7 linked regions of the Homo sapiens genome follow. The protein of the gene in region 2 purifies or fractionates together with the protein of the main gene of each other region. This does not show direct contact. Each region holds a gene or a part of one and is shown on either strand. Other genes may lie near its edges.

Region 1 (3,021 bases), on a different chromosome or scaffold from region 2:
GTGGAACCTTGGTATCAAGATATGCCCAGGGCCTGAGTAGGGCCTGTCCCAGGACTCACAGGCAGACACATGGTCACAGAATGCCAGTAGCCCAGAAGAAAACAGTAAAGAAACAAAGAAAACAAAATAGGTCACCATTTGAAGCCCTCTCCTAAGCCTAAGGGGTGAAGGCCATGTTTTCAGGCTCAGCCCCGCATCTCTCCCCTAACCCCTTTTCTTTAAAGGGACAGGGTCTCCCTCTATTACCCAGACTAGAGCACAGTGGCATGATCACAGCTCACTACAGCCTCACCCTCCTGGGCTCAAGGGATCCTCCTGCCTCAGCCTCCCAAGTAGCTCAGACTATAGGTGTGTGCCACCACACCCAGCTAATATTTTTTCTAGCAATGGTGTCTTGCTCTATTGCCCAGGCTGGTCTCAGACACTTGGACTTAAGTTATCCTCCCACCTCTGAAAACGCTAGGATTATAGGTGTGAACCATATGCACCCAGCCTCCATCTCTTGTTATATGCATTCTTGTGGCTGGTGGTCGGGGGAGGGGTGGGGGAGGGACAAGGAGCAGAACCGTGGTAAAAGGAGGCAAGGGACGAGGCAAAGAGGCAGAGCCAGAAAGTTCCTCATTTTATACATAAGGCATTGGGGCTGGAGGAAGAGATTTTTTGAGCAGAGCAAGAAGACTGGAGCAGAAGGGAGGAAGGACAAGAGGCTGTGATGTGATCTCTAGTTTTGTTTAACCGTGTTCCTTGTCTTCCATATTCCAGATGTTTTGAGGAACACTCAAAACACCTGGTCCTGTTGGGGCCATCAATCCTAGCACAAAATAGGCCAGGTGCGGTGGCTCACGCCTGTAATCCCAGCACTTTGGGAGGCTGAGGCAGACGGATCACATGAGGTCAGGAGTTCAAGACCAGCCTGGCCAACATGGAGAAACCCTGTCTCTGCTAAAAACACAAAATTAGCCGGGCGTGGTGGTGTGCACCTGTAACCCCAGCTACTCAGGAGGCAGAGGCAGGAGAATCGCTGGAACCCGGGAGGCAGAGGCTGCAGCGAGCCAAGATCGCACCACTGCACTCCAGCCTGGGCAACAGAGCGAGTCTCCATCTCAAAAAAAAAAAAAAAAAAAAAAATTCCTAGCACAAGACCTAAGCCAGTCTGTCTGAATATGTGATGCTATTGGACCTGGAAAACAGTGAGCACTGGGCATGTCACCCGAGCAGAGCAGCGTGTCTTCACTGGCTGACGTATCATGGTAGACGAAAGACAGTCTTTTAGCTCTAGGGCTGCAAAGCTGGAAAGAGTAGACTCTAGGGCTGCCACTGGCCATCTTTCTACTTTGTGAAAAGATCTTGCCTGCAGACTGAGGCCAAAAAAAGATACACAGGGCTAAGGCGTGGGCACAGAGCCCTGGTATGTATGTGTACATACATACATACATACATATATATATATATATATATATATATATTTTTTTTTTTTTTTTTTTTTTTTGAGATGGAGTCTTGCTCTGTCACCCAGGCTAGAGTGCAGTGGCACGATCTTGGCTCACTGCAACCTCTGCCTCCAGGGTTCAAGCGATTCCCTTGCCTCAGCCTCCTGAGTAGCTGGGACTACAGACGTGCACCACCACGCCCGGCTAATTTTTTGTATCTCAGTAGAGACAGGGTTTCACCATGTTGGCCAGGATGGACTCGATCTCTTGACCCTGTGATCCACCCTCCTCGGCCTCCCGAAGTGCTGGGATTGAGCCCTGATATTTTTGAGACTCTGGATCTAAGCATGGTTGAGGCTAGAACTCCAATTTCTTAGTCTTTCCAGTTATATAAGCAAATACATTCTTTTTGCTTAAGCTACTTTTTTTCCCTTTTTTTTTGCTTAAGCTACTTTGATAGAGTTTTAGTCACTTGCCACTTATGAGAGTTATGATTAATATGGGCTATAGAGGAGGGAGATTAGATTTGTTCTAGATGATCCCAGAATTAAGACTAAGGTCTAAAGATGGAAGTCACAGCAAGGGAGACTGCAGTGTGAATCAAGACCTTGATAATGACAGGAGCTGTCCAGAAAGAATGGGAATGTTAGGAGGGAGTGTCTTCTCTGTTGCTGGATGTAGTAGAGCAGGGGTCTGCAATCTTTTACTTAGAGGGCCAGATTGTAAATATTTTAGTTTCTGCAGGCCATATGGTCCCTGTCGCAACTACTCAACTCTGCCATTGTAGTGTGAAAGCAGCCATGGACAGATATGTTAATGAATGACCATGGCTGTGTTCCAATAAAAATTTATAGAAACAGGCCTGCTGGCCCACGCGGGCTGCAGTTTGCTGACCCCTGAGCTAGAGAATCATCTGTTGAGACTGTTAGAGAAGAGGGGCACAGTCACCAGACTGGAGGTAGGGGTACAGCACTACACTAAATGATCCTTCCAGTCTTTTCCAACTTGACTGTTTTTGGGAAACGGCATTCCCAGCTTCGATCAACTGACCTACAACTCTATTTTGCAAATACGCCTGACTGCCACAGAGGACTGCTTGCTTCTGGGCTCTGGAGACCCAAAGTACAGCAGGTCAGAGTAAGTCTTGAGTATTAGTTTTGGAGGTGAGGGGCCCAACAGGGCTCCTCCAAATTCCTCTCAATGGCTCATCTGGTTTGTGTATCATGAATGAATCTAGTAAAACTGTCGTGGGGACATCTGTATTCTTGCCCACGTCTCTCTCTCGGGACAATGAGCTCTGTGAGTTGCCCTAGTCAGGTAAGCCTGGCTCCCTCTTATTATTGGGCCACACTTTACCTATGTGGGGTCACAGAGTTAGGAGGGCTCCGAGGTGCCTGTGAAAAACTTTCCCATCCTCTCCTTACTCTGCAGGATTGAACAGTACTTGCGTGAAGAAGAGAACACCTGCAGAGACAGGATACCTGCAGCCCTAAATTTGGGTTCTACTATTTAGACTATTTCAGCATTTTGTGCTTTTATCTTTATTAACTCCTTTCTACTTTTCTTCTTTCATGTTACTCTTATCTTTTCC
Region 2 (3,500 bases):
ACACGTCACATACTTTCTCTCCTTTTCACCAAACATTGGAAAACAGCCTTATATTGAAAGGAGATTCTACTTCAGGGTTAAAAATCAACAAACAAAAACACCCTTCAGTAAGACACGGCTGTGTGCATGAATTCCCTCTACAGCACCCTGGATAAGCACATAGCCCTGCCTTTGCTTGCATACCTCTGGTGACAGAGAGCCCTCCACATGACGAGGCTGCTTTGCTTTGTCTACTCTCAGACACTCTGGCTGCGAGATAGGTTTGCTTTCTGCAGCACCTGGAACCCATTCCTTTTCTGACCCTGTGAAGTCTTATGGTGGAACACGTCACGATCACTGGAGGATGGATGACCTTGTGCCTTTCCCTCTAGGGATTAGGAGCATCTCTAGGCCTTTCTGCATCTTCTCCCATGCTGTGGTTCCCTAGCCCCTCCGAGTTCAGCCCCTGCAGACAGACAGCCTCGGGTCCTAGGGTGATCAGAGCTGTGCATTGGCCATGGTCACTCCCATTCCACTTCCAGGATCTTTGAGTGTAGCCTTGGCTCACCTCGTTTCTCCCTTTCATGTTTAAAAGAACACTTAGGAATTCCCACTTTCCTTAAAGTGGTGACTGCGTTTGTGTTTTGTGTATAAATATTGTTTCTTTACAATATTTCAGCAATGTACGTCTGATTTTGTCTCTGACTCACACGTGAAGAGCCTGTGTAAAAGAATGCATAGAAATGCCTGTATTTTTAATATGGCACTGCAGCTAAGTGGTCAGGACCAACAAACAGCTATTTTCTTTGTGGTCCGAGAATGAGGAGTGTAAAATTGCCATTGCCTGTGCTCGGGAATGGGGTAAATTTTGTGAAAGACACTTCTATTCTTCTAAAGAGAGCATAGACCCTTGATTTATGATGTACTTCTCCCTGATCTGCTAGTCTACCTTATTAGTTGGGTTGTTCAGAGCTCTAATTTCTGTCTATTTTGATCATGGGTATTCCACAGGAGGGGCACTAAGGGCTCCAGCTACATTATATTTCCATTTTTTAAAATTTCTTTTGCATTTCCTGCATGGTCCCATTATGTACTTGTTTGCTGTGCTAATTGGAACAGAAATTGAGTGTTTTAAGTTTTCATTATTTATTGTAACTTTCACTCTTGTGGAGTCTCCATGTTACTTTCTCAATTCTTTTTACTAAAAAAAAAATTACTTTGTCCTATTCCCTTCCTTTCTAGCACAAAATGTGCCTGATAAACCAAAGATTATGCTATCATTTTACTCTGTGTCTTTTCATTTTCTTAGTGTTTTTCCTTGACAAAAGATGATTGAATTTTGTTTTTTTTAAATTGATGGTTGGTTTTAATAGATTAATATAGGGAGTATTAACAATTGTTTATAAATTTGCATAAACCTCTGTGAGGTTGCCCCTCTGTTTTCTATATTGTGATATTATAGTTTTTTCATTTTCAGTTTCTACTGTGAATCTTCTCTTCCTTTTGTCCCGTTAAGATAGACAAGGTGATTTAACCTAAATATTCAATTTGGAAAATATTTAAGTTCTTAACTTCTTGATGCTATTGATAGCTTGCCAAGCTTTGGGGGAATTATATTTTAAATCTCTTTTCTTACCTTCACCTACTCTTCACTATGAAGCTGGCATTTTGTCTCTTTTATGTCGTCTTTTACTGCTTATGTAATACACATTTTTATAATGTGATGGCTGACCTGTGAACAGAGGAAACTTGTTTATTTTTCAATTTTTTTTTAAAAAAATCATGAATCAGGTTCTTGTTGCTGTTCTCCCATCATTTGGGTGGGATTGCTGTCTCACTTGACACTCCCACATCTCTCTCTCACTTCATGCTTCGTTCCCAGCCCCATCTTGAAATGCTCATCTCTGACCCTGAAAGGTCATGCCTCATCAGCTGAGCTTTGGTGAATTCAATGCATAACTTTTAATTTTGTGTAAACCTTGCGCCCTGCCATGCCTCAAACACAAACCCAGACCACAAGTTGTTTCTCTGATACAGAAGGAAAAAATTGAAAGCTATCCTTACTGGTCTCCTTTTTCCCCACCAAGCATTATATATATATATTTTTTTAATCTCAGGTTTTCATATTATCATTAACTAATTAGAAAAGCACACACACACACACACACACAAAAGACAGAGATAAAGATAAAAGATTTTAAAAATCACCCACCTTCCAACTGCTAGAATGCAACCACTGGTTGGGATGTAGAAATCTTTTTTTAGGTTTTTTTTTTTTCCCCTCTATGCGTGGGTTTTTGTAATTTTAATCACAGTTGAAATCATTCTGAATGTCTAATTCTATAGTTTGTGGGGTTTTTACTCAACATAGTCAGCATAAACATAACAGTCAGACAGAAAAATTTTCCATTGAGTAAATTTACCGTAGTGAACTTAACCTCTTGTTGGCATTTACATGTGTGTATGTATTTTTTACTATTAGAAAAAAAGTAATGTGGTAATACAGTGAGGCAAAGAAGAATAAGAAGAAAAAATGCCAAGGTGGACATATTTTTGTACACAATTTTTCTTCTTTCATATAATTTACTTAAGGTGAATTCTCAGAATCACTGGATTAAAGACATACAATTTTCATGGCTTGTAATAGAAATTATCAAATCCCAAAAGTGGTGTGCTAATTTGTACACTTACTAGCATATTGGTGACTGGTTTCACAGAACCCTTGCCAAATTCTTTGTTAAATTTGATAAGCAAAAATGTTATCTCTTTGTAAATCCTCTTCTGGGAACTGCCTATGTCATTGGCTTGTTCTTCTATTGTTGTTCTTGATGTTATTCATTTTAATATTCTCTTCTCAGAGAAAGAACGTCATTTGTCTAACATTGATTGTGTTTTGTTTCTTCGAGTACATTATTTGATGTTAAGACTTTTTAGCAAAAAGAATTTTTTTTGTGCAGTCAAACCTGTCCTGTTTATTTTCTGTTTCTTTGATTTTCAGTTATGCTAAGTTGACAAAGAGCTTTTCCCTTTAGTGATTTTATAAGTTGTTTATTAAATTTTCATCTAGTTTTTCTATGATTTGATTGTTTTGAAATGTAATTCCTTGATGAATTTGGAATTTCTTTTGAGATACCGTGTAAGATGAGACTCTAAGTTGGTTTTTACTCCCAAATTGTTAACTGACAGTCTTAACATAATTCTTAACATAATTTCTTAACTAAGCCTTCCCTTTGTATTATTGATTTTTGTGGAATGCCTCATTTATTCTTGCTTCTGTTAAATGTGTTAGTGCATAGTCTGAGATTTTTGGGTTAGTAAATGTCTGATTTCAACAAGAATGTCCCTACTATTTTACCATTAAATACAAAGTTGTCATTGGTGTGAGCAATTTACTCTTTGTAAGAAGTACTTTCCTGTTCCATTAGTTAAATAACTCAAAAAACTATTTATACAATTGGATGACTTTTTATTTTTGCTCTAATGATGTGATACAAAACATTAATTGATTTCCTAACACTGAA
Region 3 (3,500 bases), on a different chromosome or scaffold from region 2:
GCCTGTTCTCTCGATCCCAGGGATCACCAACCACGCTGCCTTTTCCTAAATCAGGCGCACGCACCCCAAGGGCAGGGGCCCCAATTCCAAGTGGCTGGCTGAGAGCTGAATGTGGGACCCAGGGACTGCCTCATGTCCTGTTGCCACCTGTGGGCTCTGAAGGGTCTGTTGCAGCATGCAGATAACCCTCCCCTCACCAGGCCAGGGGATAGGCTGGATAAGGGTGGTCACAAGGACCCAGCATGCCAACCAGGGTCCTTCTAGAATCCATTCTATGGATGCTGGGAGAGGCCGTCTTCCTGCTGGGCATGGGCTGCAGGACACAGGGATGAGGTGTGTGGCAGAGAAGCGGACTGAGGACAGACAGGGAGACAGCAAGCTGGATTCTGGCCACAGCACCTGAGCCCGGTCCAGCGCGTCTCTGAATACATGAGCCAAAGCCCTGCAGGAACTCCTGCCCCCGACCCACCCTCTGGCGATGGAGACCGGGCTCCTCCCCCCGACCCACTCTGGTAATGGAGACTGGGGTCCCATCTGTCACCGGACACTCCAAGACAAGCTTGCGCCCCAAGACCTCTGCTGCTACCTCAGACAGGTCGCTACTGTGTCCCTGCCTTGAGCCTTAACAGGGAGATTGCCTGTTCTTCTCTGTGGGCAGGAGCCCCTGCCTTGGAGGCCTGAACTGGCCCTGGGATTGCCACGCTCCCCTCCCAAGGGGCTTGAAACAGAAGTCCCTGAGCTCTGCCACCTTGGTCAGTGCGCACAGAGTTTACTCGGAGTGCTCAGGCCCAGGGCAGGGCTGCTCCTGGCACCTCCCACCCCAAGTTCCATTCAAGTGCCACCAGGCTGGGGTGCCCTGAAAATAGGGGGGTATCTCTGCTTAGGGGAAAAGCAAAAGCATCCTAATATAAACCTTGGCGTGTGTACAAAATGGCCTGCCCTGTAACTGCACGAGAGGAGAGGGGCCTTGGCTGTTATCAGCATCTCCTCCCCTAGAATAACTAGAGTGGCCCCCTTTGCTGAGGGGCATGTTGCAATTTTAGAGGAAAAGATTAGGGCACAGCACGGTGCACACATTTACCCAAGGTCATGTCACCAGAGCTGGGACTAAGGGGCCGTGCTGGGGCTCCCAGATGATATGGCAATTCTGGGCACTTTATTTTTATTTTTGTTGAGACAGGGTCTTGCTCTGTTGCCCATGGTGGAATGCAGTGGCGTGATCATAGCTCACTGCAGCTTCCAACTCCTGGGTTCAACCGATCCTCCCACCTCAGCCTAAATAGCTGGGACTATAGGTGTACGCCACCATGCCCAGTTAATTAAAACAACTTTTTTTGTAGAGACAGCGTCTCCCTATGTTGCCCAGGCTGGTCTTGAACTCCTAGCCTCAAGCCATCCTCCCACCTTGGCCTCCTAAAGTGCTGGGATTAAAGGCATGAGCCACCTATTCCTAGCTAGCCCCATTTCTTTGGGGGGAACTGAGGCTCAAAGCTCTGTGCTGCCTGTCTCTGCAGCAGGAACACTAACCACTCCCGGCCCTCCCTACACTATGTACCCATCCACAGTTCTGTCCCAGCTGCCCCTAGCCCTGACTGTCTGCCAATGCCTGGGCACCCCTTACCTGCTCGAGTCAGAGAGGGTATGGTTCCCAGAGAGAGGGCCCGGCTGAGGCGGCCAGGCAATGAGGAGGGTGAGGTCCGTCGAGGAGACCGGAAGAGCTGCTGGTTGGCGAGGGGCAGGAAGCTGGGCGGGCTGGGGATGAACAGAGACGCTGGAGAGCCTCCGACACTCGGGTGAGGGATGGCCAAGCTGGGGCTGGTGGGGAAAAGGCCGGCAGAGTCTCCTGGGAAGAACCTGCAAGGGCCCGTCAGGCACGGGACAAGAAGAGGGTCAGCGGGAGGTCCTGGAGGCAGCCTTGCAGTGGGTCCCACCCCTCTCCCACAGTGCAAGGTGGGGGCCTCAGCTGGGGTCCCAGAGGAGGCGTGCGTTAGTTAAAGCAGAAAAGCAATCCGACCACATTCACGCCATTAGGAGCGGGTGGCTGGGAGGTGCCAGCAAGACCCGGCCCTCCCCACATGCCCCCTCCTACCCCCTCGGCTCACAGCAAACTATCTCCACTACGAGTCTCGGTATTAAAGTGACACTGTCGCCTTTGCCAACCTCATGCCAACCCTTTCGCCTTGAAGCAAAAATGCCCAGCCCCGTGCCAGGCACTCAATGAAGGTTAATGGACTTGGACTCCTTGCCACTTCTTGTTCTGTGCCGAGCCTTCCCACAGAGCGGCCGGGCTCAGGGACATCCTGGCTCATCTCCCAGATGGGCCTGGATCATAGGAAGTCAGGCCCCAGCACGGCTCTGGGCACCCTCTGTTCCCAGGTGTGATTCCTGGAAGTCCTCCCACAGCTCTGCCCTTAGAAGGCTGCCTCCTGCTCTCTGGCCTTGCACTCTGGAAACTCCTCTGAAGTTCCTGGTAGAGCAGAACTGGGGGGCAGCCAGGCCTTGGAACCCCCTGGAAGAGGCTCTCACAGGACAACGCCAAAACCGAACTTAGAAGAGACCCATCCACGACCGCAAGGCTGCCCGAAAGACGGAAGGTGACAGTGTCTCTTTAACTCGAGATGGTACAAATCACACAACAGGACCTGATGGCCCCACGCCAGAACGTCAACCATGCTTCTGATTAAGGCACCCAATTACAGAGGGAAGAGAGGGACAGAGGCAGTTAATACATTAGTCCACCGTCTGGACGGAGCTCCGGGGGTCCAGCCTTACCTCGGTGCCAAGGGACAAATGAGCCCAGTGGACAACGTGCTGGTGAGCGGGCAGGCTGGCCCACGCCCTGCAGGAGCCGGGGGCTGCTTAAGGGACCTGCGCCCAGCATGACTGCATGCTCGGGGATCGCTAGCCAAGCCGCGCGCCACCAACCTCCCTGCTACTTTCCCTCTAAAAAAGTTTTATAAGGAAAGTGTGGGGCCAGCTCTTGACTTCCCGGAGAATCATGTAACCTTTCTAATGCCTTCCAAGGTGCCAGGAGACCACCTGGACTTCAGAACCAAAGGCGAGGCCATGTTTGGCGAATGTGGGCATCAAGGCAGGAGCTGAGCTGGGGACCCTGGGGAAGGCCCCGGTCAGCCGGACTGGACACATCCTTGTTCCGCCTGCTGACCTGTGATTCCCAGGCCCAGCGCCCGCTGCTTGCCCCCAAGACTCCAGGGAAGGCTCCACCTCTACACAGAAGATGAGGTTTTGTGTCGTCATGTTAGAATTCTGATTCCATTTGGCGGGACAGCGCAGCGACTTCAGGGAATGACCCTGAGGGCACCTTTAGGCAGGGGCAGTGAAGGTGTTGCTGGGACCTTGGGGCATGACCCTCCATGGGAGGGAGTTTGTGGGGCAGGGCTCTGCGCTAGGCTTCCTGTGCCCACCCTGCCCGGCAGCACAGACATAGCCAAGAGTCAGCCAAGGGTGACCAGGTCCCCCAGTGACCTGAGAGTACCGTT
Region 4 (3,500 bases), on a different chromosome or scaffold from region 2:
CCACACGTGGTGGCTCACACCTCTAACCCTAGCACTTTGGGAGGCCAAGGTGGGTGGATCATGAGGTCAGGAGTTTGAGACCAGCCTGGCCATCATGGTGAAATCCCGTCTCTACTAAAAATACAAAAATTAGCCAGGTGCGGTGGTGCGTGCCTGTAATCCCAGCTACTTGGGAGGCTGAGGCAGGAGAATGGCTTGAACCTGGGAGGTGGAGGTTGCAGTGAGCCGAGATTGTGCTATTGTACTCCAGCCTGGGCAACAGAGTGAGACTCCGTCTCAAAAAAAAAAAAAAATACTCCCCATCCACGTGGAGCCTCCTGTGTATCCCGCCCTGATCACACCTCCCCCAGGTCCCCAGGGTCACCTCTTTCCTACAATCATTATTAAATTATTTCCTGAAATTCTCATTTATGCATTTCTATATTTTCTATGTATGTGTACAGCTGTAAACAATCTAGAGTAATGGTGTGCATATTTTCAAACTTCACAGAAGTGGTATTTACTGTCGTTCTCCTGCAACTTGTGCTTTTTGCCCAGCATGGTTTTGCGATTTATCCCTGTTGCCATGTGTCGCTCCAGCTCAGTCACTCATTTCACACTGCTGTGTAAGGACTTCGTTGCGTGAATCTATCACAGTGCATTTATCTGGCTGAGGAATACTGTGGTTGTTTCTGATTTTTTTTCCTTCTTTTTAAATATGTTTATTAGTTATAAACTCTGTTCTGACATTTTTTTTTTTTTTTGAGACAGGGTCTTGATCTGTTGCCCAGGCTGGAGTGCAGTGGCACGACCATGGCTTACTACAGCCTCAAACTCCCACGCTCAAGTGATCCTCCCGCCTCAGCCTCCTGGGTAGCTGGGACCACAGGTGCACCCCACCACACCTGGCTAAGTTTGAAACATTTTTTGTAGAGATAGGGTTTCACTACGTTGCCCAGACTGGTCTCGAACTACTGGGCTCCAGTGATCCTCCCACCTCAGCCTCCCAAAGTGCAGAGATTACATTAGTGAGTCATCTCACCTGGCCTGTTTCTAATTTTTGTGCTCAATGAACACCTGTAAGAATGTTTCTAGGGCAGTAGAGTTTGAACTGACCACAACCCACAGTAAGAAATTGTTTCTACTGGTGGCTGGGCGTGATGGCTCACACCTGTAATCCCAGCATTTTGGGAGGCTGAGGGGGGCGGATCACCTGAGGTCAGGAGTTCAAGATCAGACTGGCCAACATGGTGAAACCCCACCTATACTAAAAATACAAAATTAGCTGGGTGTGGTGGCGCACGCCTGTAGTCCCAGCTAGTTGGGAGGCTGAGGCAGGAGAATCACTTGAACCCAGGAGGTGGAGGTTGCAGTGAGTCGAGATTGTGCCACTGCACTCCAGCCTCCATTCTCAACAAGAGCAAAACTCTATCTCTAAACAAACAAATAAATAAAATTATATATATATATATATATATATATATATAGAGAGAGAGAGAGAGAGAGAGAGAGTTTCTACTGGGCGTTCATGCAAATGCACACAAAAACGTCAAACAAAAGTGTCCCAAGGCCAGGCGCAATGGCTCATGGCTGTAATCCCAGCACTTCGGGAGGCCAAGGCAGGCGGATCACCTGAGGTCAGGAGTTCGAGACCAGCCTGGCCAACATGGTGAAACCCCATCTCTACTAAAAATACAAAAATTAGCTGGGCGTGGTGGCAGGCACCTGTAATCCCAGCTACTTGGGAGGCTGAGGCAGGAGAATTGCTTGAACCTGGGAGGCGGAGGGTGCAGTGAGCCGAGATCACACCATTGCACTCCAGCCTGGGTGACAAGAGCGAGACTTCATCTCGGGGAAAAAAAAGAAAAGTGTCCCAAAATAATATGGATCCCTCCCATCTGTGACATACTGACATCATCTATTCCATAAAAAAAAAAAAAGTGCTGGTGGATCATGAGGTCAGGAGTTCAAGACTAGCCTGGCCAAAATGGTGAAACCTCATCTCTACTAAAGATACAAAAAATTAGCCAGGTGTGGTGGCGGGCACCTGTAATCCCAGCTACTTGGGAGGCTGAGGTGGGAGAATTTCTCGAACCCCAGAGGCAGAGGCTTCAGTGAGCTGAGATCGTGCCATTGCACTCCAGCCTGGGCAACAAGAGCAAAACTCTGTCTCAAAAAAAAAAAAAAGTCCTGTTGGAAACCAATAAATTGATGTCAGGACTCCTATCACTTGGAGTTGGGTAAACATATCCCTGGGGTATGAACCTAGGAGGGGACACAGGGTGTATGCACATTGTGGAGAAAGAAGAGGCAAGGGACTAGGGCTGGAGACTCCGTGGGGCCACAGGATGCTCAGCAAAGGGTTCAGACTTGATTCTGAGGGGGCTGTGAAGCTGTAGGAGGGATATCTTGACCAGATTTGTGCTTTAGAAAGACCCCTCTGGGGACAAAATGGGGATAGACCACTTTGGAAAACAGTTGGCAACCCCTGATAAAGGTAATGATGTATCCACCAACACTCAAGTCTGCAGGTCCAAACCTTCACTACAGGTCTTTGTACACCCCCTGCCCTCTGCTGGGAACACTCTGCTCTCTGGATGGTTGTCTCCTTTTCCCCTGTCCCATCTCAGCCTTTTTTTTTTTTTTAAATAGAGCCCAGGCTGGTTTTAAATTCCTGGCCTCAAGGGATCCTCCTGCCTCAGCATCCCAAAGTGCTGGAATTACAGGCATGAGCCACCATGCTCAGCCTCTGGTCTCAGCTTTTTTTTTTTTTCTTTGGTGAGACAGAGTCTCGCCCTGTCACCCAGGTTGGAGTGCAGTGGCATGATCTTGGTTCGCTGCAGCCTCGACCTCCTGGGCTCAAGCCATCCTCCCACCTCAGCCTCTCAGTGGCCTCAGCTTTAATGGCACTTGCTTTAAGAAGCCTCCCTTAATCCCTGCTCACCCCACAGTGAGTCAGGCACTTTCCCTGGGATCCCATAACTTCCTGTGCCTCCCCCAACTCCAGCCCCCACCCCTCTGCCTGTGCCTCCCCCATCCCGGTCCTGACCCATCTGGCCTGTGCTCCTCATTGTGGTTGGTACGAACCACTCTAGGTCATCGCTGTGTGGTGCCAGGTCCCCCCACTGGACTGGGCACTCTGAGAAGGCAAGGGTCAGGGATGTCTTTTTATTGCTGTCAAGAGGCAAGGGCAGGTGATGGTGTGTTCTGTATGGATGACGAGTGTGGTAGTGATGGCTAACTGCCTTCCAAAAGCTGTACTTCCCCTCTGTGCTGTCACATTGCCACCAGGAACCACTGCCTAGCCAGGGACTCCATTTTCCAGCATGCCTTGCACCTAGGCAGGCTATGTCACTAGCTCTCACTGATGGAATGGCAACGGAAGTGCTATGTCCATTGCCCCAGGATGAGCTTAGTGTATTTAGCCTGGGCATTACTTTTTCCACTTCTGGCCAAAGCAGTTAGGCAGGGGGCTACCCTCAACCTCTCTTACCCTTTCCTTGGGAAGCAGAGCGTTGCAA
Region 5 (3,500 bases), on a different chromosome or scaffold from region 2:
TTACATCTTTTTTAAAGGATAAATGTATGTAATCAGAGTATACAGAAAATTCAATGTATTTTACAATAAAATAACTTTAAACCTCTATCCCTGTACAACAGGGTTTAGGTTAATTCTAGTGAACTTGCATGGTTTTAAATCTCTTTTACAGTTCATTCCATTATGAGTACTTAAATTGCTTTAGATACATAGCTTTTTTCAAAATATTACAGTTGTATTCCAGGATAAGATTTAATATATTGAGATGTTTTAAAAATATTTATAAATTTGTTTCTAGTATGCAAAAGCATTTGGCAATACTTTTACAGCATTTGATTTTATAGAATTAAAATCTCATACAGTACTCATCTTGATGTTAAAAAAAAATTCACAGAAAAAATATAAATTACACAGCCTGACTGCACGGTACTGTTATTTCCAGTTTTTAGTTCTGGTAATTAAAACCTTCATTAAGTCTGTTAACAAATCATTACCTGTACATTTATGAAGGCAACTGACATGATTTGCAAACAAAACCTTCAGGTTTTATGTTATTTACCAAAGAGTGCAGTTCAGCAAGAAAGGAAAACCCAGTAGCAAATTTACAGAATATTTTACAAATTTACCAGTTCCTGTGACACAAACTGTTTCAACCTTTCAAGATACTGTCCATAAAGTTCCACATCATTGTGACCTGCTCCTTCAACCCAGAGAGGCTCCACAGGTCTTTGGCAACGTTCAAACAATGCGAGGCCATGTGAAAAGTCAATGACTTCATCTTCAGTCCCATGAATTATTAATACTGGAGAGGTTATCTTAGAGATTTTGTCAATGCTGCAGGGAAAAAGGAAGGGGGAAAAATGCAATAAATTAACTATGTAAAGGAACATATTCTTGTGCTATATCAGACAGATAATTCAAATATGAGAATTGTATGAATCAGTTCAGAAGGTAAGAATGTCTCCTGAATTTCCAGTAAGATTCAAAAATTGCCTTTTACATACTCCCTACCTTAAGATTATCTGAGGAAGTTATTTTCATGCACTTGTTTTGATGGTTTTGCTGGAATCACTCAATGCTCTTGTCACTCTACTGTACCTTTCTACAATGTTGACTTTTGGCACAGAGAAACTTAGGTGTCCAGAAGAAGAGAAAATTTAAGAACCATTTCAAGTATGCGCTAATTTCACTTTCTGCACTCACTATATTCTTTCTCCTAGTCTCCTACTAAAATGACAGCAAAATGTTTTATGTTTTTGTTCTTGTTTGAGGATAAAGATACAAAAACAAGGAGAATGTACTAAAATATAATAAAATGTTGGAGCTGGAAAGAAGATTAATGTGTGAAACAATTTATTAAAAGAAGAAAACACAATTTTAGGCAGATAGATGGTAAAGTGATGAACGAAACCAATTTATACAACAGAATACCCCAGAAAGCTAAGGAATTACCATGGTGATGAAGGGGGTGATTGAAATATACAGGATTTTTGCAAAGTCTGTGTAAGAAAGTTAGCCTCCCCTTCCCAGTTCCTTTTGCCTGTTCATATACCCAGAAACTGCCTGCCCCCAAGACTGGAATGTCTGTGAACTAGAAGACTGCCAGAGTTTAGAACAGAGGTATCATAGAGACAATGGAAACATATACATTTACATACTGGCTACTATGAACCCATTTTCCCTATGTGGCTCCCAGAATGCTGGTAGTCAGGCCACTGTCCTCCAGGAGGGACTTTTAGAAAGTCTTCTTTGGGCCAGGTGCGGTGGCTCATGCCTGTAATCTCGGCACTTTGGGAGGCCGTAGTGGGTGGATCACCTGAGGTCAGGAGTTCGAGACCAGCCTGATCAACATGGTGAAACCCCGTCTCTACTAAAAATACAAAAAAAAAAAAAAAAATTAGCCAGGCATGATGGCGCATGCCTGTAATCCCAGCTACTCGCGAGGCTGAGGCAGGAGAATCACTTGAACCCTGGAGGCAGAGGTTGCAGTGAGCCAAGATCACACCATTGTACTCCAGCCTGGGTGTCGCAGCGAGACTCTGTCTCAGAAAAAAAAAGAAAGAAAGAAAGAAAGAAAGAGCCTTCTTTGGAGATTATTATCAGATCAGCCCTTTAGTTGATCTGCTAAATCTTGATTGTCTGCTTATATGTAAGAGTAAAGAGTTGATCAGCTCCTTTACTTACATATAAGCAGGCAACCAAGAATTATCAGACATGAGAGGAGAACACTTCAAATAACAGAGGAATCAAAACAAACACTTTTTTAAAAGGCAACTTGGAGGACACAGAAACTACACAGACAATTCTTTTTAAGAATCTTTAGAGAAAGGTATTATAATAAACATAAAATGAAAATGGAATGTTGACAATGAAAAAACCATCAATGAAATAATCTAAGGCTGCATTTGGTAAGAATAAATACTTGGGTTTACTATCTGTTGTCAGAAAGATGTTCAGCGGTAGAGGAATTAAAACTTGAATAAAAAATAAAAAGAAGTATATTATCTTTTTCAAACAGTTTATTTTTATTTTTTGAGACAGGGTCTCGCTCTGTCGCCCAGGCTGGAGTGCAGTGGCACCATCTTGGCTCACTGCCATCTCTGTCTCCCAGGTTCAAGGGATTCTCATGCCTCAGCCTCTCGAGTAGCTGGGATTACAGGCACGCATCACCATGCCTGGCTAATTTTTGTAATTTTGGTGGAGACGGGGTTTCACCATGTTGGCCAGGCTGGTCTCGAACTCTTGGCCTCAAGTGATCCACCCGCCACGGCCTCCAAAAGTGCTGGGACTACAGGCGTGAACCACTGTGCCTGGCCAAACAGTTTATTTTTAGTGTTGCTCTCTGTTGGTGCACCAGAAATGAAAGAGGGAGCTAGATGGAGACATAAGTTGACAACAACACTGATATGGGGATACTCAGATACATCCCTATCATTTTTACCATTCAGCTAGACAGAGGCAGTATAATGCCTATACCCACATTACCTGAAACAAAAACAAACCCAAAACAAAATAAAAACCCAAACATGCCCACAGCTTGCCCTTGTGATAAGATCATGTGTTCACATACTTTCCCTACTAAAGTGATCCATTACTGGCTAATGATGAAAATTCTGTGTTTTTAAAATAATTCTTGAACCATGTGATGACTTTGCCTTTGGCCCATCGGCCATTCACAAAAAAAATCCTTTGTATTGCTGCCAATTGGAGAAAGGAGAGAAAACTAAAATTTGCCAACTTATTTCTTGTCTTCTCCTTGAGAAAAATAGGCCATTAATTTTTTCCAACTATGAAGAGTAGGTGGGAACTACCTCCTGTCTTGAGAAGCATGAAGGAAAAGTAGCTACTTTCCTTTCAAATACATCTAAGTATGTTTGCAGGTTTTGTGGCAGCAATACTTACTAATCTAGTTAATTTAAGATTCAACTTTTTTTCAATTCACTTCTTTTGTAAGTTAGGTATCATTAATCAGATATTTACTCATTTTAGCTTCTACCTGTTCTTCTCTAACATCAAGTGTC
Region 6 (3,500 bases), on a different chromosome or scaffold from region 2:
TTGAGGTCAGGAGTTAGAGACTGGCCTGGCCAACATGGTGAAACCCCGATTCTACTAAAAATATAAAAATTAGCAGGGCATGATGGTGCACACCTGTAATCCCAGCTACTCAGGAGGCTGAGGCAGGAGAATCGCTTGAACTCGGGAGGCGGAGGTTGCAGTGAGCTGAGATCGTGCCACTGCACTCCAGCCTGGGTGACAGAGACAGACTCTGTCTCAAAAAAAAAAAAAAAAAGAAAAAAAGAAATTTCTATTTTTCCCTTTGTAACTAGCACCTTGTGAAAAGATACTTTGAGACTGTGAAAATCCTGCTCCTCATCAAACTTTCACTAGTTTTATCATCTACTAAAGATAAGTGGTTCTCAACTGGAGGATTTTGCACCCCAAAGGAGCATCTGGCAATGTCTGGAGATATTTTTTGTTCTAATCTAGGGGACTACGGGAAAATAGGCATAAAGGACATTGTTGACACAAATGACAAAACCTGAATATAGGTTTTGCACCAGATATTATATCAATGTTAAATTTCCTGATCTTTACAACTGTATTTAGTTACATAAAAGAATGGTTTTGCTTTTAGAAAATATATACTAAAATTGTCAGAGGCAAAAGAGCATAATGACTCAAAACTTATTTTCAAATATTTCAGGGAAAAAAATAGAGACAGAACAATTAAAAAATTGGCGCAAGATATAAACAACTGGTAATAAAATAACATATTTACAAGGAATCTGGAGAGGTGTGAGCTATGTTACAATTGTTGATGTAAATTTACAAAAATTTAATAAGTCACATCAGAATTTCATACACTTTAAAAATCAATAACAAAGCAAAATACTCACTTGTAAATACCACTACCAAAATGATTGCCAGATCAATGAAGAGAAACTGGAAGTCTCCTAGGTTACTTAAGATCTACAGAAGTAATTTTAAAAACATTATTAGTTTTTGGGAATTATTTTTATAGCGTCCCCAGGTTTTATTAATAGTTTGGATTTTCCCTATAATGACAACTTAAAAATGACACTCGGACCTGCTTAAAAATTGAAATATAAGTGTCTCTGAAACTAAATATAACATATATTTATAAATATTTGATTTAGTATATTAGTATAAAAGGCATCTCCTTAAAATTCGTTCAATAGGCTGGGCGCGGTGACTCACACCTGTAATCCCAGCACTTTGGGAGGCCGAGGCGGGCAGATCACTAGGTCAAGAGATCGAGACCACCCTGGCCAACATGGTTTTTTTGGCAAAAAGAAAACACAAACATTTACTCAAAATATTCAACGTTGTAAATTAGTATCTTCATCTAATACCATCCCTTCTGATACTTTCTACAAACGGTCAAATGGGATAGTGTCACCATGAGTCTTTAGGATGTCAGAACACTTTGATTATAAAATCTGATAGGGTACCTGTGGCCATCGCTGTTTATACTTTTTCTCCAAATGCAAACCATTCTCCAAATTCAACAAACCACTGTTGAAACATCTTTTCTCATTTTAACTTTTTCAATTTGCTATTCAAACTACAGTAAATTGAAGGTAAATTTATAGGTACTACTCACAGAAACAATTACTAATGGATGCATTCAAAATCAAACACATACGCTCAACATCTTAATTTACGGTGCACATTAAGTGTTATCTCTGCACACAATGTTAATACTCACAGAATACAGCAGAGTAACACTGAAGTACTGGATAATGCTGTACAATGCCATGAATTTAAACACACAGAAGGAAGTTATTAAAGCAGCACGGCCTTCCCTGTGAAAAGAAATCAAATGTCGGCATATGAATAGAAGCATTTTAAACTCCTTTTCCAAACCACAATTTTATCTTGACAGATGAACATCAACATTCAACGGCTACAACAAAGTGCTTATCCACCAAAAGAACTAAACCAAATGAGGAGTAGCAATCAATCTGTTACTAATAAGTTACAGCTCAAATGTGCTAATCTGCTAATATTAAACAAATTCATGTTACTTTTTATGATAATTTTCTCTTCTGTATTATCAGAGACAGAGAAAAAGGGATGAGAAAAATTTTAATTTGTACTACCTGATAAGGTTTGGCACACAGGAAATACTAGGAGTCTTAGAGGTAAAGGGAGATGCCACTGAAGCTTCGAGCTCCGATAAGGAAATGCCTCCGTGTGCCCTCTTCAAAGCCTAATAATTTTAAGAAAACTGGTTAAGTTTTGTGAATATGATTTAGGCTAGAGTAAGAACTATAAAACTAAATCACAAAAACTATACTTACACCACAATCATTTGCGCCATCACCACACATCCCAACAAAATAACTAAGAAACAAAACAATGTTAAGATTTTAATTAATTTCTTAAACTACAAAACATTTAACTTATTAAGACTTTTCTATTACAGTATTATAAAGAGCTAACACACCAAGATTCCCCCAGTGGAACTATGAATCTTTTCACTATAATGAACACAGGTGTGCTGCTTTGCAAACAGCACCAGACCACAAGTGAAATGAGCTAGGTTATTGTCCTATTTCTGTCACATTATCGGCAAATCATTTTGGTGTCTCAATTTCCTCATCTTTAGAGCAAAGCGCTTGTGCCTACAGTCTTTAGTATGGCTACTTTTAACGTTATCAGTAAAAATTTATCCCTTAATAACCTGAAACATAACTGTTTACTAAAATGATTAGCCACTTCTATCAAGATAGAGCACCTGAAAGAATGAAGTCATAGAGAAAAAACTGTGGATATTGTACTTTAGCTAAATAAAAAGCACATGAGACTCTTTTAAAGCGGCACTTAAAGTTCTGAACTATCTTATAGATCACAATTATATATATAAATATGAAATATTAGTATAAGAAACATATAAAAATTATTTTTCTGATGCTGAAATGAAACCATCATTCATCAAAAACCAAAACCAAAAAAGACACCAATACTTACTCAACATTTTGCAATGCTTCTATCAACTGTGTCTTCTGATCAGGTGCCATACGGGCAAACACGGTGCCATGCAACATCAACTGGAAACAATAATACAAATTTTTTTAAAATACTGTTGCGATGCATTCATGTGAGCACACACATACACCCAAATTACTTACCTTAGGAACAAGGTCTTGAAAATGCTCCAGTATCACTGAGAATGATTTTCCATTCATTGCAAAATGATAACGAGTCATTTGAAGATCCTCTAAGCTATCATGGACCAATTTAACCGGAATAGCCTGTGTATATGAGACATTGGGAACAATATTTAGGCAACCAAACCAAGTAAAACAATTCTATTTTAAACATATTTGTTCTAAAACTGAATTCTTTCATTTGATATGTTCCACAACATGATGAAAGCCGGACATTTATTCAAAGTAAAAAGAAACTCAATTAAATATCAGCTTCAATTTGAAATGATGCATGAACTGAGTATGATGGACCACCTGCATCATTTACCACTAGTTACCTGAAGAATACGATAAACATCTGGAATTCTTGTACTTTAAAAC
Region 7 (3,500 bases), on a different chromosome or scaffold from region 2:
CTAGCAGAGTCTTGGTATTTTTCCTTGGGAATCTCCCCTTTCCTAGTCACACCCGTCCATACAGGTAGACAACTGTCGACCCATGAAAAGGAAACACACTCCTCTTTGTTCTCCCTGACCTTAGCTGTCCTCAGGATAAAACTTCCCACAAGATCAACTTCAGAAGCTGTACGTGTTTTGTGTGGCTTATACAACATGGTTAAAAAAAATCTGAGCCCAGATTTAATAATGGTTAAGTATTCATCCAGAAAAACTGGATTTCTGGCTCCTCTTGCAACTCAGAGGATTGGACAAGCTGGGCCAGCATTCCCGCATGGGCACAAGGAGCTGGAGCTCAGAGGCACTCCCAACTCTGGATGAGGTGTGGTTTTCACAGCTCAGCACTGGCCCAGCTCCTCCAGTTCCCACTTGGCCCTGTGTTTCCTGCCTGGCCCCTGTAGGGAATGAACTTGAGATTCTGAGGTGAAAACAGGAATCTCAAAACAGCCTTGGCAGTGGCTCACACCTGTAATCCCAGCTCTTTGGGAGGCTGTAGCAGGAGGATTGCTTGAGCCCAGGAGTTTGAGAATAGCTTGGGCAACACAGTGAGATCTCATCTCTACAAAAAAATTAAAAATTAGCCAGGCGTGGTGGTGCGTGCCTGTAGTCCCAACTACTTGGGAGGCTAAGGTGGAGGATCACTTGAGCCCAGGTCGAGGCTACAGTAAGTTATGATTGTGCCATGGAACTCTAGCCTGGGTAACAAAATGAGACCCTGACTCTAAAAAATTAAAAAATAAAGAAACCAAGTTGGGCGCGGTGGCTCATGCCTATAATCCCAGCACTTTGGGAGGTCGAGGCAGGTGGATCACGAGGTCAGGAGGTCAAGATCATCCTTGCTAACACAGTGAAACCCCGTCTCTACTAAAAATACAAAAAAACTTAGCCGGGCGTGGTGGCGGGCGCCTGTAGTTCCAGCTACTTGGAGGCTGAGGCAGAAGAATGGCGTGAACCCGGAAGGCGGAGCTTGCAGTGAGCCGAGATCGCACCACTGCACTCCAGCCTGGGCAACAGAGCAAGACTCTGTCTCAAAAACAATAAATAAATAAAAATAAAGAAACCAGTCTTGGAGCTGTGTTTCAGAGAGCTTCGGCATTTTTTCAGGTGTCATCTGCCACCCCGGGCAGGGCAGTACAAATGTAGCCACTTCTCCAGGAACTCCCCATTTTCCACTCAGAACTCCATGAGAAGACCCACAGGCTCCTTTTCCTGCTTCCTGTTCCTTCCCTGCAGAAAGATCCTTTCTCTGCCAGGCTTACCTGCCCACTCCAGCATGTCCTCAATATTCTCCGCTGCCCCAGGCACAACGCGAGTCTGATCTGTGTCCTCTAGCCTCAGGATGAAGCTCCCCTGGTACTTCTTAGCAAAGATGTAGTTGTACAAGGCAGTGCGGAGGCCACCCAGGTGCAAGAAGCCTGGAGAAGAGAACAGCTCAGATAAGACAGGGAAGATAAGCTAATAGGCCTCAGCAAGGGGCAAGTAAGCACTACTGTGACAGAATGTTGCAATAAATTTAAAAGACCAGCAGGACACATTGGCTCACGCCTGTAATCCTACCACTTTGGGAGGCCAAGGCCGGGGGGATCACTTGAGCCCAGGAGGTTCCTGTAGGTTTTTTAAGACAAGAGTCTCACTCTGTCACCCAAGCTGGAGTGCAGTGGCACAGTCTTGGCTCACTGCAACCTCTGCCTCTTGTGTTTAAGCAATTCTCATGCCCAGCCTCCCGAGTAGCTGGGATTACAGGTGTGTGCCACCACGTCCAGCTACATGTTTGTATTTTTGGTAGAGACAGGCATTCGCCATGTTGGCAAGGCTGGTCTTGAACTCCTGGCCTCAAGTGATCCCCCCAGCCTCGGCCTCCCAAGTGCTGGGATCACAGGCAAGAGCCATCACACCTGGCCAATTTTTGTATTTTTAGTAAAGATAGGATTTTGCCATGGTGGTCAGGCTGATCTCGAACTCCTGACCTCAAGTGATCCATCTGCCTTGGCTTCCCAAAGTGCTGGGATTACAAGCGTGAGCCATTGTGCTTGGCCTGAGTTTGAGATCTGCCTGGGCAACATGGTGAGACCTTGTCTTAGCAAAAAATATAAAAATTTAGCTGGGCATGGTGGTACATGCCTGTGGTTTCAGTTACTGAGGTGGGAGGATCACCTGAGCCTGGGGACGCTGAGGCTGCAGCGAGCCATGATCACGCCTCTGCACTCCAGCCTGGGCAGCAGTAGAGTGAGACTCTGTCTCAAACAAAAAAAATTAAAAATTAAAAAATTTTTTTTCAAAGACTAAGAACTAGTTACCCCTGTGCCCTGTCTCCAGACACATTTAATCCCTCATCCTGAAAATGGAAACCACCCAGGATTTGGAGCATGTCATTTTATTAAAAGGCTCCAATTTTCCCCAACTGCATCCACCACTCTATTTTGATATTTGTCTCAAGGCCAAGTTTCGCCTGAAAGAGAAGCAGAGAGTTATTCATTGAGGCCATATCATGTACATTTAACTTACAGAAATTCAATGATGTGCGCTGGGAAAAAAATTAATTACAAACAAACTAGAAATTTAAAATACTGTACAATCATATTGTGGGCCAGGTGCAGTAGCTCACACCTCTAATCCCAGCACTTTTGGAGGCAGAGGCACGAGGATCACCTGGGTCTCTAAATTTGAGACCAGCCTGGGCAACATTGTGAGATCCTGTCTCTACAAAGAAAAAAAAAATCGGTGGGGCATGGTGGCTCACACCTTTAATCCCAGCACTTTGGGAGGCCGAGGCGGGTGGATCACAAAGTCAGGAGTTTGAGGCCAGCCTGGCCAACATGTTGAAACCCCGTCTCTACTAAAAATACCACAAAAAAAATTAGCTGGGCATGGTGGTGGGCGCCTGTAATCCCAGCTACTTGGGAGGTTGAGGCAGGAGAACTGCTTGAACCCAGGAGACAGAGGTTGCAGTGAGCCGAGATCGCACCATTGCACTCCAGCCTGGGCGACAGGGCGAGACTCCATCTCCAAAAAAAAAAAAAAAATCACATTTTGCATATGCAGTCTATGCAGTGTGCATGACTGTCCACGTCGTACATTTTAAATTTCATCTACTTGAGATTTTTACTTTTTTAAAGAAACAAAATTCATTTTTGAAATTTGAGATGGGGTCTCACTCTTGCCCAGGCTGAAGTCCAGTGGTACAGTCACGGCTCACTGCAGCCTCAACCACCCAGGCTCAATCAATCCTCCCACGTCAGCCTCCCAAGTAGCTGGAACTACAAGTGTACACCACCATGCCCGGCTAATATTTGTTTTTTGGTTTTTTTTTTGCAGAGGCAAGGTCTCACTATGTTGCCCAGGCTGGTCTCAAACTCCTGGGCTCAAGCAATCCTTACACTTCAGCCTCCCAAAGTGCTGGGATTACTGGCATGAGCCACCATGCCTTGCCAAGATTTTCACCCTAATTGCTGGCTTTAAAC

The links.
Region 1: the proteins of GPR55 (region 2) and TM9SF4 purify together in Homo sapiens (affinity purification with mass spectrometry; one large-scale study listed by BioGRID and IntAct). This does not show direct contact.
Region 3: the proteins of GPR55 (region 2) and TMEM201 purify together in Homo sapiens (affinity purification with mass spectrometry; one large-scale study listed by BioGRID and IntAct). This does not show direct contact.
Region 4: the proteins of GPR55 (region 2) and COQ8B purify together in Homo sapiens (affinity purification with mass spectrometry; one large-scale study listed by BioGRID and IntAct). This does not show direct contact.
Region 5: the proteins of GPR55 (region 2) and ABHD17B purify together in Homo sapiens (affinity purification with mass spectrometry; one large-scale study listed by BioGRID and IntAct). This does not show direct contact.
Region 6: the proteins of GPR55 (region 2) and ATP13A3 purify together in Homo sapiens (affinity purification with mass spectrometry; one large-scale study listed by BioGRID and IntAct). This does not show direct contact.
Region 7: the proteins of GPR55 (region 2) and EARS2 purify together in Homo sapiens (affinity purification with mass spectrometry; one large-scale study listed by BioGRID and IntAct). This does not show direct contact.

What each region holds. Positions count from the first base shown.
Region 1 is NC_000020.11:32,161,714-32,164,734, reverse strand, and holds part of TM9SF4 (transmembrane 9 superfamily member 4 isoform 1 precursor), read right to left. Parts: intron 1-3,021. UniProt on the Homo sapiens protein: Associates with proteins harboring glycine-rich transmembrane domains and ensures their efficient localization to the cell surface.
Region 2 is NC_000002.12:230,918,743-230,922,242, reverse strand, and holds part of GPR55 (G-protein coupled receptor 55), read left to right. Parts: intron 1-3,500. UniProt on the Homo sapiens protein: G-protein coupled receptor that binds to several ligands including 2-arachidonoyl lysophosphatidylinositol or lysophosphatidylglucoside with high affinity, leading to rapid and transient activation of numerous intracellular signaling pathways.
Region 3 is NC_000001.11:9,605,911-9,609,410, reverse strand, and holds part of TMEM201 (transmembrane protein 201), read right to left. Parts: intron 1,855-3,500; coding exon 1,622-1,854; intron 1-1,621. UniProt on the Homo sapiens protein: Critical regulator of angiogenesis and endothelial cell (EC) migration. Promotes the migration of endothelial cells, which is essential for angiogenesis.
Region 4 is NC_000019.10:40,696,387-40,699,886, forward strand, and holds part of COQ8B (atypical kinase COQ8B, mitochondrial), read right to left. Parts: intron 1-3,500.
Region 5 is NC_000009.12:71,866,194-71,869,693, forward strand, and holds part of ABHD17B (alpha/beta hydrolase domain-containing protein 17B), read right to left. Parts: intron 814-3,500; coding exon 594-813; 3' UTR 1-593. UniProt on the Homo sapiens protein: Hydrolyzes fatty acids from S-acylated cysteine residues in proteins. Has depalmitoylating activity towards DLG4/PSD95. Has depalmitoylating activity towards GAP43. Has depalmitoylating activity towards MAP6. Has depalmitoylating activity towards NRAS.
Region 6 is NC_000003.12:194,428,003-194,431,502, forward strand, and holds part of ATP13A3 (polyamine-transporting ATPase 13A3), read right to left. Parts: intron 3,225-3,500; coding exon 3,102-3,224; intron 3,021-3,101; coding exon 2,941-3,020; intron 2,314-2,940; coding exon 2,271-2,313; intron 2,180-2,270; coding exon 2,070-2,179; intron 1,773-2,069; coding exon 1,676-1,772; intron 916-1,675; coding exon 843-915; intron 1-842. UniProt on the Homo sapiens protein: ATP-driven pump involved in endocytosis-dependent polyamine transport. Uses ATP as an energy source to transfer polyamine precursor putrescine from the endosomal compartment to the cytosol.
Region 7 is NC_000016.10:23,550,851-23,554,350, forward strand, and holds part of EARS2 (nondiscriminating glutamyl-tRNA synthetase EARS2, mitochondrial), read right to left. Parts: intron 1,455-3,500; coding exon 1,299-1,454; intron 1-1,298. UniProt on the Homo sapiens protein: Non-discriminating glutamyl-tRNA synthetase that catalyzes aminoacylation of both mitochondrial tRNA(Glu) and tRNA(Gln) and participates in RNA aminoacylation for mitochondrial protein translation.